Regions from separate parts of the Homo sapiens genome. Here region 1 is linked to region 2. Evidence: fine-mapped expression QTL. Tissue or cell type: whole blood. Region 2 holds a variant in brackets; the other region holds the start of a gene. All regions are shown on one strand. Distances are between the middles of the regions.

Region 1 (7,928 bases), 320 kb before region 2:
TCCTGTAGCTAGAGAGAAGAAGATTTTGTTGGGGCTTTTTATGTTTGCATCTGTTGGCATTTTGGGGTTGTTGGCTTGTCTAGCACCCAGTCTCAGATTTGCTAGAAAAAGAGAAAAGAAGAAGAAAGGAGACCCAGGGAACTCACTGCCATGCCCTTCTTTGGGTTCTCTGAGGTCTCCAGCCTGTCTGCCTTCTCTTCTCCATTTTTCAGAGTCTTCTTATGTATACTTTATATATAACATCCAAGGTTTTTAGTTGCAATTAGCGGGAAAAATAGGGAAAGTACAGGTATTCCTATAAGCAAAAGAAAGTCCTATCCTCTCAGTTTATATGGTCTTTATGTTTTTCACATTAAGCCGTTGCAGAGCATATCAGGGTTTGAGCTAACTTTTGTATAAAAATCTAAATTACTTTTAGAATAGGTCTAATGACAAGGCTGAGTTTTTTCTTGCTGAATCATGCTATATTTAACATCATTTAAGCCAGCAATTAATGCTATCTCCTTGGTTAAGTACAAAATGTAGAATGTTAGAAACAATTCTGAACTAGAGTTAGAGATCTACGTTCTAGCTCAGAATCTTCCACTGTACAGCTCTGTGACCTTAGGCAGATCTCTTGGCATCTCAGAATTCTCATCTGAATTAACAATGTTGGACTCATTAGATGATCTCTAAGTTTCTTCTAGCTGTAAAGTTTTTATTTTCCTCTCATCAATGCCACTACTTTAAAAAAATATGTAGACATTCTGTAATACAGGGCTTAAAATATATTGATTAAACCAAGTAAAATCCTCAAAAATAAATAAGACAAATAGGAATAGCTTTTATTGAATGCTGTGTTCCAGGCACTACAGTAAGTGTTTTATGAATATTCTCTCGTCCAGTTCTTAAAACTTTGAAGTTAGAAGTTATACTCATTTTATAGATGAGAATGCTGAGACTCAGAAAGGTGAAAAATGTGTCTAAGAATATTTTTTTGTAAAGATATAATTGACCCCAAGTTTATTTGATTCCAGAGCTGATGTTTGCAACCACTTATATAGATTTTCAAAATTTTTTTGGCCACTTTTCAAGAGGCAGATTATTTTATAGAAATTGGATTCTAAAGCAATACTTCTGGGTAGCTAAAAGATACATTTTATTTAATTTTTCCCATCACTTTATTCGGCTTGGATTTATTTTTTAACTACATAAATATTGAATACAGAAAGTAAATACATACAGCTTTTTTTTGTTTATTATTATTCATCACTTATTTAGCAGACATAGGAGGCATTATTACCCTTGAGAGGTAAAGGAATAAACTAAGGGTTGTAAAATATCGTTACTCAAGAGCAAAAATTTAATTTGCCAACTTTCCATAAACTTCATAGTATCTCAAGTCTCAGGAACTAGAAGAGATACATTATTTCTATGTGTAAATTTTGCTTATTTATGGAGAACAGATAAGGAACCATTTGCAAGACTATTAGAGTTAATTAAAAGGTGGAGGTCAAGAAAAAATTAAAAATAATAGAGGAAACAGAATAGAGCAAATAATGTCAAATTTAAATGTATACGATAACATAAGCACTTTATCATGATATTAGTTCCTAAAAGTATTTCATAAAAAATATTGTTTGGTTTTAAGTAAATTAAATGAGCATGCATTATAAAATGAACTCTTGAATACTTGGCAAGTTGAGATCTTATGTTTTCTTAGAACCAAAATTGTGTTTAAAAAAGGTTTATCTTCTTAATTGAAATAAGTTCTATACATTTATGTAAATGTCTGGAATATATTTATGTGGTAAAGACCCTGAAGAATTTATAAAATGATGATTATCAAGGAAGGGAGGGGATTCCAATATGAAAAGCCAGGTCTACTTTAATCCTTGTTTTATCCTTGCTTTTCATTATGAAGCCCCCCTAACTTTCTCATGGCTCACTCTAGATTTTGGGTATTCCAATGGAAATTATTCAAATTTCACTTTACTATGTGTCTCAGAATTACGGAAAGAGCAAATTGTGATGTAAAGAGTTGTTGCTATATCATTCCTTTATAAGGATTTAGGAAGCTGGTATTTGGCTCTGTAATCTTGTTCTGAGATCAGAGTGTGCTTTTCTAGGAAAATGATTTTCTATTCAGAAAGTTACCATGATTTTGCTAGAGAGCTGGTTCCTGGTTAGATGTTTTATTTTTGCCATAAGCCCATTGTGTGGAGTTTTATTTTTGCCATAAACTCATTGTGTGGTGAGAGCTTTCAAGAATTTGACATCTCTGGTGTAGAGCTTTCAAATTATTTATTTTAGGTTTTATTGAAACTGAACAAACAAAATATTATTCATAAATCTATTATAAGACAGAGAAAAACTGCTCAATTCTGGGTGGGGTGGAAGTAGGAATAGGGGTACAGCTCTGTCCTTCGTCATTCTACTTATGCATAAAGCATGTTCTATTGAATTCCTTAGAGTCTGGACAGCACAGTTTGAAAAACCTTCAGTGAAATACAAAGATCACTAGATTAGAAATCGAAGGATTTAGAATCCCAGTTCTGCTATCAGCCAGCTGTGTTACTGAACCTCTATGGTACAGATTTCCTCACCTGTTAAATAAGGAGAATGAACTAGGTCTCTTTCAGGTCAAATATTTGAGGAAACCATTAGCAACTACATGTAAATCACAAAACTCCTATACTTTATTTGTTCACTACTGCAAAATAAGATGTTTCCTGGGTAAAATCCACATGCCCACCTCAAAGTTCTAAGTGTCAGGAGATTTTTTCTTTTAACCTTAAGAAATTTAAAGGAGTTCTGTGAAAATTGCAATATAAAATATCTAATTGTCCTGTTCTAAGCAGTTTCAACATTTCTGACTCTATTTGGGATAATCGGTGGTATTTCATTGATTCATTCGGCAAACACATTGAGTGTCCACTACCTGACAGGAACTGAGTTAGGTATAGAGGACAGAAAAGATGACTAAAGGATGTCCACTACTCTCCTCCCAATACAAAAGGTAATGTGTTTTGAACAATTTGTGTTTTTCAACGAAACCTTATCTGTTGTCTGCGATGATGCATCCTTTCTAAATGATAGGGGTGGCTTTGACATTTTAAAACTAAATGAAAAACGAATTGGCATCCATAAAGAACTGTGTATTTAAAACTATATTTTCTTTTCACAGAATGGCTTTATTGTAATAGATCTTTGATCAACTTGAGCAAAGAGTATTTAGTTTTATAGGGTATGACATGTTTTGCTTTCTGGATAAGCAGGGTCTCTCTTAAATATGAAGATGGCTCCAGTGTCCAGAGGGAGACTAAAATCTCTCAGCTGCCAGCCACGCACATTACCTGAATGATTCTGGATTACTACTGGCTTCTTGAGATGGGCTGGGGTCAAGACAGGGAAGAGTTTTGAATGAAGATGCCAGAAGAGGCCTTTGAGAGGGTGGATGGGAATTGCGAAAGGCCCATTTCCCCTAGACTTAAACCCAAATTCCCTAGCTGTGATGATACCAGGAACATCCTTCAGGGAAATCTCCCTTTGTTATCCACACTGGTAGAGCTCCCAGCTCAATCCACAACTGCACACCCCCTCACTCTAAGAGTCACTCTTCCCATGGTGTAGCCAACATCCACCCTCTTACTCTAGACGTGGCAGCCCTCCTAGATCCACCCAACCGTTGACTTACGTTCAAAGGCCATCACCCACCCCAGCACCATCTTCCAGGAACTGGCCTCTCCCCCATCAGTCCCCGCCCCTCTTCTGAGAGCACCCAATGGGTGGAGTCGGGGCTGCGGTGGGAGGGGCCTGAGGCGGGCACATTTAAAGAAAGGCAGCCGGCGAAAAGAGGCAAGAGAGGAGAAGAAAGAGAAACCAGGGGGGCGAGGCGCCGTCCAATGACAAAGCCCAGGGGTGGGCGCCGGCCGCCATCTTGTACCGGGCAGCAGGATATTCGCCCGCGTCCTCCGCCCTCGGAGGGGGAGGGGCGGCGGCGGAGGCGAGAAAAGTAGCGAGAGACGCCAGCAGCAGCCGCCGCCGCGGAGCCAACGCGGACTGGGACGGCGGCGGCAGTAGTGGGACCCGGCGAGCGTGAGTGGCCCGGAGCGGCCTTCGATGCGGCGCAGTATGAAGAGGCGGCGGCGCCGGCGCCCGGTCGCCCCGGCCACGGCCGCCCGGGGCGGCGACTTTAGGGCAGAAGACGGGGCTGGGTTGGAGGCGCGGGAGGAGAAGGTGGTGTACTCGCGGTCGCAACTGTCGCTGGCTGACAGCACCAAGGCGCTGGGCGACGCCTTCAAGCTCTTCATGCCCCGCAGCACGGAGTTCATGAGCTCGGACGCGGAGCTCTGGAGCTTCCTCTGCAGCCTCAAGCACCAGTTCTCCCCGCACATCCTGCGCAGCAAGGACGTCTACGGCTACTCCTCCTGCCGGGCCCTGGTACCCGACCCCCCGGGGCCCCCTACAGCCCGCGGCCAGGCGCGCCGGCCGGTTCCGCGCGCAGCGGCCAGGAGGAGGCGCCGCGGAGCCCGGGCGGCCGCTGCCCGCAGGAGGAAGCCCCGGCCGCCACCCCCACCGCCGCCGCCCCCCGAGGAGAGCTGCCCGGCCAAGCCCGTGGCCCCCGGGCCCTGCTTCGGGGGCCGCACCTTGGAGGAGATCTGGAGGGCGGCCACCCCGACGCTGACCACCTTCCCCACCATCCGCGTCGGCAGCGACGTGTGGGGCGAGCGCAGCCTGGCGGCAGCGCGGCGCAGGGCGCGCCAGGTCCTGCGAGTGAACCTGGAACCCATGGTGAGGCTCCGCCGCTTCCCGGTGCCCCGGGCATGAGGTGCGGCCTCCAGGGCGCCTCCTGCCGGCCCCGACCTTGGGACAGGCCTTCCGCCCGGAGGAATGAACAAGTGTCAGTCGAGTGTTTACAGATCCGGCCAGGACCCCGGCCCCCAATGCACTTTACGCGCGAAGAAGTTGCCGGATGGTTGTCCCTGTCCCGGGCCGCGGCGCGGTCGTCTTGGACGCTGGGGCAGGTGTGCCCTCTGCTGCCTCCCGTACCCGGCCTGCGGAGGGAGGGGACAGCTGGACCCGCAGGGGAGGTCCCTTTCTTCCTGACCACCGATTGAGACGTCTCCAGGACCTTAGGGGCAGATCCGTTTTCTCACTGTTGGACTCTACCTCACTGGTCTGGAAGTCCTCCGAAGACATTATTTTTCCAAAGGAATTTGGTTTCGTGCTTGTGTAATAAAGCCAGAATTTACTTGTTCTTTATCTCCCCCTTTTTCTATTTCACTGTCACCCCTCTTTGTGGACAGAAGTTCGAACATGTGGTGTTGCACTAGTTTGTGCTCAGGGTATTCTGAAGCCCACTCGTTTCCTAATTTTTACTGGATTCCAAAGCTTTGATCGAGGATATTTTTTAAGAGGTTCAAGCTTGTGACTGTTAGTAGTGCAAGGATTTGTATGGGCTCAGTGATTACAAACAAAGACATGCAAAATACAACTGTTTAAACATTTTCAAGGTATTTTTAAAGGTTTTGTATTGAAACAATGTTTATATTTACTGAGCTCCTAAAAATGGTAGAATACACATGAAAACTTTTGTTTAGGAAAAGTTAACTTGTTAAATTCTTTTGAATTGAATAAAAAAATGCATTGAAACCATATGGTGTGTGATTAAAAAAAATGAATAAATTGTGAAGAACTGGTTTTGGTTACAGGAGTCACTGGAATCCGACTGGAGATGATTTGGCCCCCTGTCCTGGTCTAACATACAAATCTAGGAATATTATGCGTTAAAGTATTTTAAAATACATTATCCTTGTAATGTATTTTACAAGGATAATGTATTTTAAAATGGGAGTTGCATAGGAGAGATGGATGTGTGTAAACATTATCACTAAAATGATAAACAGAATACCCATTAGAATTCTTAGAACTATTAATGATCAAGAGGGGTGGAGGCATTTCTTGGTATCAAATAACTGGTTAAGGTTACTTTGGGCGAAATCTATTTCCTTTTTGTTTTTGTTGTTGGATAACAAGAAATGTCTAGACTAATATTCATCAGTTTTACAAACATAATGAAAATTAGTTGATTTTTAGTTGATTTTTTTGTCCCAACATTTTTTTTAACCTTTTTGCCACTCATTATATGTTTGCAGTTCTAGGTCTTTGACAGCTGAAGACCACAGGAATCAAACAGGCGAGACACACAGAATACTGACCCTTCTTTACGCTTTTATAGTGTTTATACCATATGGCCCAGTGTGGAATTCTTGATTATCCAAGTGCCTTTGGTCATTTGTGGCAGGAAAACTTAATAGTTTTTAGCCAGCAGTGCCACAGCCAGCTTTTACTGCAATACCTAAAGGGTCAAGTAGTGTTTTTGTACCACTATTATTTCAAATTTAAGTATTCTGCCATGAAACGATCCATACTGGGCTGGAACTTGACATGTGAAATCTTTAATACTAAAGCTTATCTCTGCTTGGCAGCTTTTTAGGAGAATAATGAGAGTTACAATTTTGACTCTTGCGTTCCTAGAATTCAAATGGCATAGCTTTCTGAAATGAGTATTTCAAGTTTAGTAGTCCGTATAGGAGTGTTGTGACTTCAATTTCAGTGTTCTTGTTAAAAGAAATAATATGATATATATATACACACATATATATAACTTGATGCCAGTTTTCTAGTAAGCCTCAGTCTTTTATTCACTACTCAATGATAATGCATTGTACAAACACTGTCACATGAGTAAATAAAAATGAATAATTCCTTAGAAGATGGAGAGTGTTAAATTATATTTGTGATAGGAAGCTTAGACATATCTTTTGGTTATTAGCTTCCATTGCCAATTGTATTTCAGATGCATAGGGTTTTCTTCCCAAAAATATATTGTTAACTTTTATAGCTAACTAGCACCTGGAAAAAATGTATTTGTACAACTTTACTATTGTATATAGTTTTATAATAATGAAAAATAAACCCAATGGCCATATTAGAATGCAATTTCGACATACAGCTTATCTAGATAGTTTTCCAGAGGATTTTGAAATTTGGCTTAACTGGGAGGATAACTGCTCAGCACACCACTGAAACATAACCACTGACACCATTCATTTATTTTAACTGAGATTCTTGACATTTTTCTCTCCTATGCCTTGTTACTTTAGCATACTTGAACTCACATAAATGCTTCTTTGGATTACATGGGCTATCTGATTCCATTTTGGATCTGATTGTCCATCTTGAATTCAATATGGTATTCATCTGGACTATTCAAAAATTATGCCATTTCTAGTCTGTGAAATAAGATGTAAAAAATCTTTATTTTTGCCCTTTGGTAAAAACCTATGTGACAACTTTTAAAATGTGAAGCAACATCTAATATAGTTGACTGGTATACTAATAGGAAAGTGAAAGTATTTCATGGGTACTTTGTCACAGAATGTGAAAAGAAACTTGGCATAGTGGCCTTTATAATGAGGCATCCACTTACTCCTCTGAAGTGAAGTCTGTAGCTTAGCTTGTGTATAGTTTTTGAAAGAAATCTCATGATCTTCGTTCATTCTCTTGCCTTCTCTTTTATCTCATATGGCACAAGTAGAGGGGGAAGCCAGGAGGAAATTCATCACCTCGCTATGCTTTTATTTGATTTTTAATTCCTGAGTGCCTAAATGTGGTGACCGGCACCTCACATAACTTTTTGAGATTCTTGATGTCATTTTTATCCTTCCTGTCAACCAGCAATGTATTTTTATGTTACTAAAACCAGTAACGTCATAATTGTTGAGGGCAAGCTTCATTGTTGATAGTGCAAAGTGTCGCTGTTGTGATGTGTGTTTATTTTATTCAAGTTTGAATATTGACAAGTGTAACTTAAGCTGGTGACTGACACCTATTGATCTGCTGTGTGCAAATGATAGTACTATTTTTTAGAAAACTCTTAAGTA
Region 2 (7,928 bases):
CTTTCATTTGTATAATCTAAAACTCCCTTAAGTCTTATTCTTCTCCAAAACTCAAAGATCTACCCTTCTTCAAAGATAAATTTAATAATCACTGGCAGAATTAAAACAGATTGTTCTCACTCTCAGCCATCAATATTTTGGAAAACATCAAGTGCGGAAGTAAGCATCGTGACTCTGTTACAGTAACAGCTCAAATATCCGGAAGAATGTGGTAAGTCTATAAACACGTTACCACTAAAGTGCTCTCAGAGTCCATGGGGAAGTGAGATCACTAGATAGAGGAAATCAGGAAGGGTGTCATAAGTGAGGTAGCACTTACCACAGATCTCAGGGAAGGGAAGCACTTCTATGGTCAACATGACAGGAAAACATTTAGAATGCAGAGAATACAATTTCTAAAAGCATGGAGGCAGAAATTTATGGAGCAGGTTAGAACAATAGTATGTGGTCCCATTTGGCTAAAGTATAGGTGACATGTAGCGGGGAAGGGAAAGGAATATTGTATTAATAAAGTGCCATGAAGCCTGAATGACAGCCGGAAGGCCTACAATGCTAAGATAAGGAGTTTGATTAAGTCGTGAGAGCTATTGGAGGTTTCTGAGCAGTAAGATGACATAACCTCATGAAAAGTATGAGATATGATTAATATAAACCCATCCCATATTGTGCCCCTTTGTAAGCTACCTGTACGGAAGAATGTGAATTGTTTCTGGCAGGATTTTTGTTGAATATATACCTTTTCTTTCATTTTCTCCAGTGAGCAGCAACACACCCTTGTAAGACAGCTGGTAGGGTTAGGAGTATTGCCTATGTCAGTGGAACGAGTTCCTCTGTCTCAGAACAGATGGAAAGCATCACAGAAGTAGGAACAGAATGAGGCCCACAGATGGCAGAGTGGTCAGGATTTGTCAAATTCTCATTAATGTATCAAACCCCCACATGGAAAAGCATAGATCCTTGTATAATCTTTGTGTGGTACTTCTGTCTGAAGAAACCCTATAAAAGCAAAAAATTACTCTCCCATGACATTACAGAAGGGAGCTGTTTGTAAAAGCGTTGGTTTCTTCAGAGGTTGGGGTCCACTGATGCCTGGCTCTAGCTTTCTCCTGCCAAGCTGCCTAATTTTGCAATTCCAGCTCAGGCTCAAATAAAACCATGCTCCAGGGTTGCCATCTTGAAGGAAGGAGACTTCATTCTGGAATCTTTGTGATGACATAGGTAAAGCACTAGAAAGGGTAGTAGATCCATGAAGAGACCAGAAGGATAAGTACAAGAAGACAGATATGCTTTACAAATAAGGACTCTCCAGGATGAGATACAGACTGTGAGCAGGCAGATAGAACATTACATAAACGTGAAGGAGATCATGGGATGGCCACCAACTCCTAAAGTGTTAGGATGAAGTGGACAGCTCTGAAAGCTTAAAAACTGCTAAAATTGATTAATTTTAAAAACTGTTGGTTTTACATTCTGTATGACTCAATATATGTAGGAATCTTGAGAAATATCAAGAAAACACAATGAAGAGATTAAGAGTAGAGAGGTTAGGAGCCACTGTGTCCTTGCCAAACAGGCAGAGTAGGAAAACAGGAAAATATTGAGGGAGGAATATAGGCATATACTACCCTGTCACAGTCAGGCTCTAGGATGCCTGCATGATCTTCACCTCTTACTATTCGTGATCATCTGAAGTCTCCTCCTACATTGAATCAGAGGTGGTCTGTGCAACCACTTGATGGAGAAGACCATGTTTAACTTCTGAGGATAGGTCATAAAAGTCACCACAGCTGTTGCTTTGTTCTGCTGGACCACTCTTTCTGGGAAGCCAGCTACCATACTGGAGGGAAGCTCAAGCAGCCCATTGGAGAAGAACCCATGAGAAATAGTGAAAGCCTCCCACCAATAGCAAGCACCAACTTGCCAGCCATGTGACTAAGCCAATTTTGAAGCCACTCCACCTCCAATCGAGCTTGCAAATTGTTACCACTGGAGGGTGTCCAGATTCTTAGTGTCTTGAACAAAGAATTGGACAAAATACACAAACAAAGCAAGGAAACAATGAAGCAACAAAAGCAGAGATTTTTTTAAAATGAAAGTACACTCCACAGGGTGGGAGCAGGAGCAAGCATAGGGTCTCAACAGTGCGATTACAGAATTTTCTGGGGCTTAAATACCCTCTAGAGATTTTCACTGGTTACTTGGTGTAAACCCTATGTAAATGAAGAGGATGAATTCAAGTTACAAAGTCATTTACTAGGTGTATGCCCTATGTAAATGAAGAGGATATTTCCTGTCATCACTGAAGTGTTTTCCTTTGATTTAGTTCTAATAAGTCCTTAGGTTCCCTGCCTCCAGGCCCTATTCTCCTGTCTTATTTCCCCCCAAAAGATGTGATCCCCATAAATCTTTATGGGAGGCAGAGGGACTGACGGTCTTTCTTCTGTAACTGCTTCATGCTGGCTCAGGGTGTAGTCCCTACCCATTGTGGATCACAGAACTCTTGTCCTGCTCTGTCTAATGGAGACAGGGTAGCTCCTTAATGACCAGGGGTGGTGTCTTCACCTGGAACTGACTGGAACCTTTGTCACATGATCATCTGAAGCTTGATGGTCTCTAGGAGAGAGGAAATGAATTTGGTTAAAAGATTTAATGGGAACTTCAGGAGGTAGATACTTATGCTCTCAGGAATGTTTGTTATAGAGATTTACAGGAGAAAAACAAAACCTCTTCTCTTCTAGGATCCATGTGTAATATGGTTTGACTGTGTCCCCACCCAAATCACATCTTGAATTCCCATGTGTTGTGGGAAGGACCCAGTGGGAGGTAATTGAATCATGGGGGCAGGTCTTTGTTGTGCTCTTCTTGTGATAGTAAGTCTCATGAAATCTGATAGTTTTATAAGGGGGAGTTTCCCTGCACAAGCTCTCACTTTGCCTGCTGCCATCCATGTAAGACATGACTTGCTCCTCCTTGCCTTCCACTATGACTGTGAGCCCTCCCCAGCCACGTGGAACTGTAAGTCCATTAAACCTCTCCGTCTTTTGTAAATTGCCCAATCTTGAGTATGTCTTTATCAGCAGTGTAAGAACAGACTAATATAGTAAATTGGTACCAGGAGTGGGGCACTGCTGAAAAGATACGTGAAGATGTGGAAGCAACTTTGGAACTGTGTAACAGGCAGAGGTTGAAACAGTTTGGAGGGCTCAGGAAAAGACAGGAAAATGTGGGAAAGTTTGGAACTTCCTAGAGACTTGTTGAATGACCTTGCCCATAATGCTGATAGTGATATGGACAAAAAAGCTCAGGTTGAGGTGGTTTCAGATGGAAATTAGGAACTTGTTGGGAACTGGAGGAAAGGTGACTCTAGCTATGTTTTAGCAAATAGACTGGTGGCATTTTGCCCCTGCTGTAGAGATTGGTGGAACTTTGAACTTCAGAGAGATGATTTAGAGTATCTGGCAGAAGAAATTTCTAAGCAACAAAGCATTCAAGAGGTCACTTGGGTGCTGTTAAATGCATTAAGTTTTATAAGGGAAGCAGAGCATAAGAGTTAAGAAAATTTGCAGCCTGAAAATGCAATAGACAAGAAAATCCAATTTCTCTGAGAAATTCAAGCCGGCTGCAGAAATTTGCATAAGTAACAAGGAGCCGAATGTTAATCCTCAAGACCCTGGGGAAAATGTCTCCAGGGCATGTCAGAGGTCTTCACAGCAGCCCCTCCCATCA[C/T]AGGCATGGAGACCTAGGAGTAAAAAATCATTTCATGGGCCAAGCCCAGTGTCCCTGTGCTGTGTGCATCCTGGGGACTTGGTGCCCTGCATCCCAGCCACTCCAGCCATGGCTGAAAGGGGCCAACATAGAGCTCAGGCCATGGCTGCAGAAGGCATGCTTGCATGCAGCCATCTTGCTTGTTGAGCCTATAAGTTGGTGGTGTTGAGCCTATGAGTGCCCAGAAGTCAAGAACTGGGGTTTGGGGACCTCCGCCTAGATTTCAGAGGATGTATGGAAATGTCTTGATGCTCAGAAATTTGCTGCAGGGGTGGGGCCCTCATGGAGAATCTCTGCTAGGGCAGTGCAGAAGGGAAATGTGGGGTCAGATCCCCCACACAGAGTCCCTACTGGGGCACCACCTAGTGGAGCTATGAGAAGAGAGTCACCATCCTCCAGACCCCAGAATGGTAGATCCACCAATAGTTTGCACCATGAGCCTGGAAAAGCTGCAGACACTCAATGCCATCCTGTGAAAGCATCTGGGAGGGAGGCTGTACCCTGCAAAACCACAAGGGGTGCAGCTGTCAAGACCATGGAAACCCACCTCTTGCATCAGCATGACCTGGATGTGAGACACGGGGTCAAAGGAGATCATTTTGGAGCTTTAAGATTTGATTACCCTGCTGGATTTTGGACTTGCATGGGACCTGTAGCCCATTTGTTTGGGCCAATTTCTCCCATTTGGAATGGTTGTATTTACCCAATGCTTATCCCCCATTGTATCTAGGAAGTAACTAACTTGCTTTTGATTTTAAAGTCTCACAGGCAGGAGGGACTTGCCTTGTCTCAGATGAAACTTTGGACTGTGGATTTTTGAGTTAATGTTGAAATGAGTTAACACTTTGGGGGACTGTTAGGAAGGCATAATTGGTTTTGAAATGTGAGGACATGAGATTTGGGAGGGGCTGGGGCGGAATGATATGGTTTGGCTGTGTCCTCACACAAATCTCATCTTGAATACCCACGTATTATGGGAGAGATCTGGTGGGAGGTAATTGAATCATGGGGGCAGGTCTTTCCCATGTTGTTCTCATGATAGTGAATAAGTCTCAAGAGCTCTTACAGTTTCATAAGGTGGAGTTTCCCTGCACAAGCTCTTGCTTTGCCTACTGCCATCCATATAAGATGTGACTTGCTCCTCCTTGCCTTCCACCATACTTGTGAGGCCTCCCCAGACACGTGGAACTGTAAATCCATTAAACCTCTCTTTCTTTTGTAAATTGCCCAGTCTCAGGTATATCTTTATCAGCAGTGTGAGAATGGACTAATACAATGTATCGCCTTAAAGTCTTAGCCCAAGCAACTCCATTTTGTTTGGTTTGATCTGATGAGGTCTAATGCATGAGCTCAGTCCAAAACAATGGCCTACCACAATTTTGTTTTTAAAAATTCCCCCCTTTTGGTCAGGTTCTCACTTAGGTGAGAGTATGATCAAAACTTAGAGCCTTAGTACCACTCTCAGTTACCATCATTTTGGGTTTCTGGTCTCAGCATGCCATTCATAGGTTACAGTGTCCTTGTGGTCACATATTTCATTCAGCTTTTGTCATTCCACTTGAAGAGAGACCATTTGACATTCTAGAGATGGCTGCATGCAAGCATGTAAAACCTTTGAGAGAATACAATGCACCAGGGAGACTATTATTATGACTATCAAAAGGATAATACCAAGAGTTTGAAGTATGTTCCTTATCCAGGGTCCCCATAAACCAAACCACCTAAAATCAAATAGATCAAAGAATGAGCTAGATAAGCAGTCTACTCACTTAACTAAACAGTCTCTTTGTTAATCCACTACAACTGAAACTCTATAATACCTGATGTTTTCCACCATAGGCCATGACTGCCAGCAGCTGCATAGATACTTTTCTCTTTGGCCAATTCTATTCTTTAGCATAACTTTCACAAGATAATTTAAAGTCTGTTGTGTAACTATAGACTTTACAGTAGAATCTGCTATAGAACCTATTGTGAGGGATACATTTTTAATCATTACCTCTTTTATTCCAAATCCTTCCAAATGGAAAATAGACCTAATAAATGATGCCCTTCTCTTATAGAAGAGTGAAGGCCTCCTGGGAATGTTCTTTTTAACCCATGAGTGGGTTAATAGGAGTGAACCAATCTTCTGTTTCTGACTGATTATGAGGCAACGTATGTAGCATTAAAGTTTCTCACCTACACTGGGTCTTCATCTTTTATCTATCAGAGTATAAGATTATCCATGTATAAGGCTGGCTGCAAAATCCTTCACAAATAAAAGTATACCCCATAAGTGCACAAAACAGATCCCTTTTTCATTTCTATTGTTCATAGAGGCATAAACAAAAAATATTCAAGGATAAGAGTCTCATGATAGTAGAAGTCTTAATCTGTGATCTTGGAAAAAGATGTTTACATCAAAGATGAATCTTCGTCCAGGGCAATCTTGGCTCACTGCAACCTCCACCTCCTGGGTTCAAGTGATTCTTCTGCCTCAGCCTCCCAAGTAGCTGGGACTAAAGGTGCATGCCACCACACCCAGCTAATTTTTTTGTATTTTTGGTAGAGATGGGGTTTCACCATATTGGCCAGACTGGGCTTGAACTCCTGACCTCATGATCTGCCCACCTCAGCCTCCCAAAGTGCTGGGATTACAGGTGTGAGCCACCACACCTGGCTGAACTTTTAATAATAAAAGCTTTAAGGACTTGAGAAGGACAAGGTGGCCATCCTCATTTTCCATGAATCCATGCTTAATGAACATTAGACTTATATGCTCTTGAATACCAGTTGTTTCACCAAATTAGGTGAATAACACTGGTAACTGATGGGTTATCATAGGTAATTTGACTTAGACCATGGAATTCATTCAAATTGTATATCTAAACAATTTCAGTAACAGCCGATTTAGCATAAAAATCTGGCAAAGTATTTTCTTGGTATTTAATTAATTTTTGTTCTACCTAGGTTAGCAGTTTTATAACCCAGTCAGTCTTTTCATTAAAGTTCCAGGAATTCTTACCCAGTTCAAATGATATGATTCTAAAGTTCTCAGAAACCTGTATTCAAGAGTGCTTTTTAGAGTCCTTTCCATCCTTTAATCAACTTCCTAAAAGACACCATATTCTAGGATTTTGTGTGCTTGTGACGTTTTCAGAAACTGCATCAGCATTAAACAATTAACTGTGGAAATAACTTTAAATAGTTACAGTTAAAAACACAATTGACAAGGAAATTTGGTTATTTCTGTGGTTTACAATCATTTAACATAATAACCATAATTATGATTGATGGCATATACTCAGACATCTTAGAATTTTAGAAATCCCATACAATTTTGGAAAATATATAATATCATTCACTAAACTATAACCTGAAGAAGACTAAATTTTTTAAGTTTTTGTCAATACTTCCCATGTAACTAAACGTGTCAAATGATTCTTCTCACCTCTCTTTTGGATGATTCAGGGGCCCTTCGCAGCATCTCAAAGTTAGAGGTCAGAAAAGACAATTTTGAAGCTGCAATTTGATTTTGGGAAGCCTATCAAATATGTTAGAGGCTTAAAACACTTGATATTATGAAATAGAACTCCAGGTTACCATAAGTCATTCATTTAGCCAAAATGATTATCAAAAAAACCTCTTTTTTAGGCAAAAACCTTCACTCATTGAAAGAGGGAAGACTTAGCTTTCCAAACAATCTGTCTCTTGTCTTTCCCTTCTTTTTTTGTTGGTAGTTTATTCAAAAGGCAAATAAAAATCTTTCAGTGTCTTTTAATATTACATGAAAATCTTGTTCAGGAGAGAAAGCCACATTTCACCCTTGCATTAGTGTACTATTAATGTCAACCCCAATTTTTAATAAAACCTTATAGACAAATCTTTCCGATCTTAATCAGTTTGACCATACAATGAGAATCTCATAAATCTTTTATAACCCTCTATAAATTTTTAGTAAAGAGCAGATCAGTGCTTTAAGAAAACCATGTTTGTGTTTTTATTTCAATGTTCAATTTACAGACAAACCAGAAAATAACCCTTTAAATTTAGTCAATATGTTCACACACATAATTTTTTACAAGATTAATTGTTTGCAAACCTTCCACAACCTGTTCAAACCTTTAGCTTTATTCTAACTTAAAACAATCTTTTAGCCCTTTAGGCACAACAAAAAAACC

What was found. PIP is the estimated chance that this variant, and not a neighbour inherited with it, causes the effect.
Region 1: it holds the start of CCDC71L, and the variant in region 2 is fine-mapped to the expression of CCDC71L in whole blood (TOPMed, PIP above 0.99).

The regions. Positions count from the first base shown.
Region 1 is chr7:106,657,070-106,664,997 of GRCh38, reverse strand. CCDC71L (coiled-coil domain containing 71 like) reads left to right here and starts at 3,840. Exons shown (of 1, transcript NM_175884.6): 1 at 3,840-7,928. The coding sequence starts at 4,102. The coding sequence ends at 4,809. RefSeq lists a silencer at 4,397-4,666 and an enhancer at 5,017-5,066.
Region 2 is chr7:106,337,341-106,345,268 of GRCh38, reverse strand. No RefSeq gene overlaps it. Among named protein-coding and RNA genes, the nearest start is that of NAMPT-AS1, 56 kb to the right of the region's middle. The variant C/T (reference allele first, on the strand shown) is at 3,727.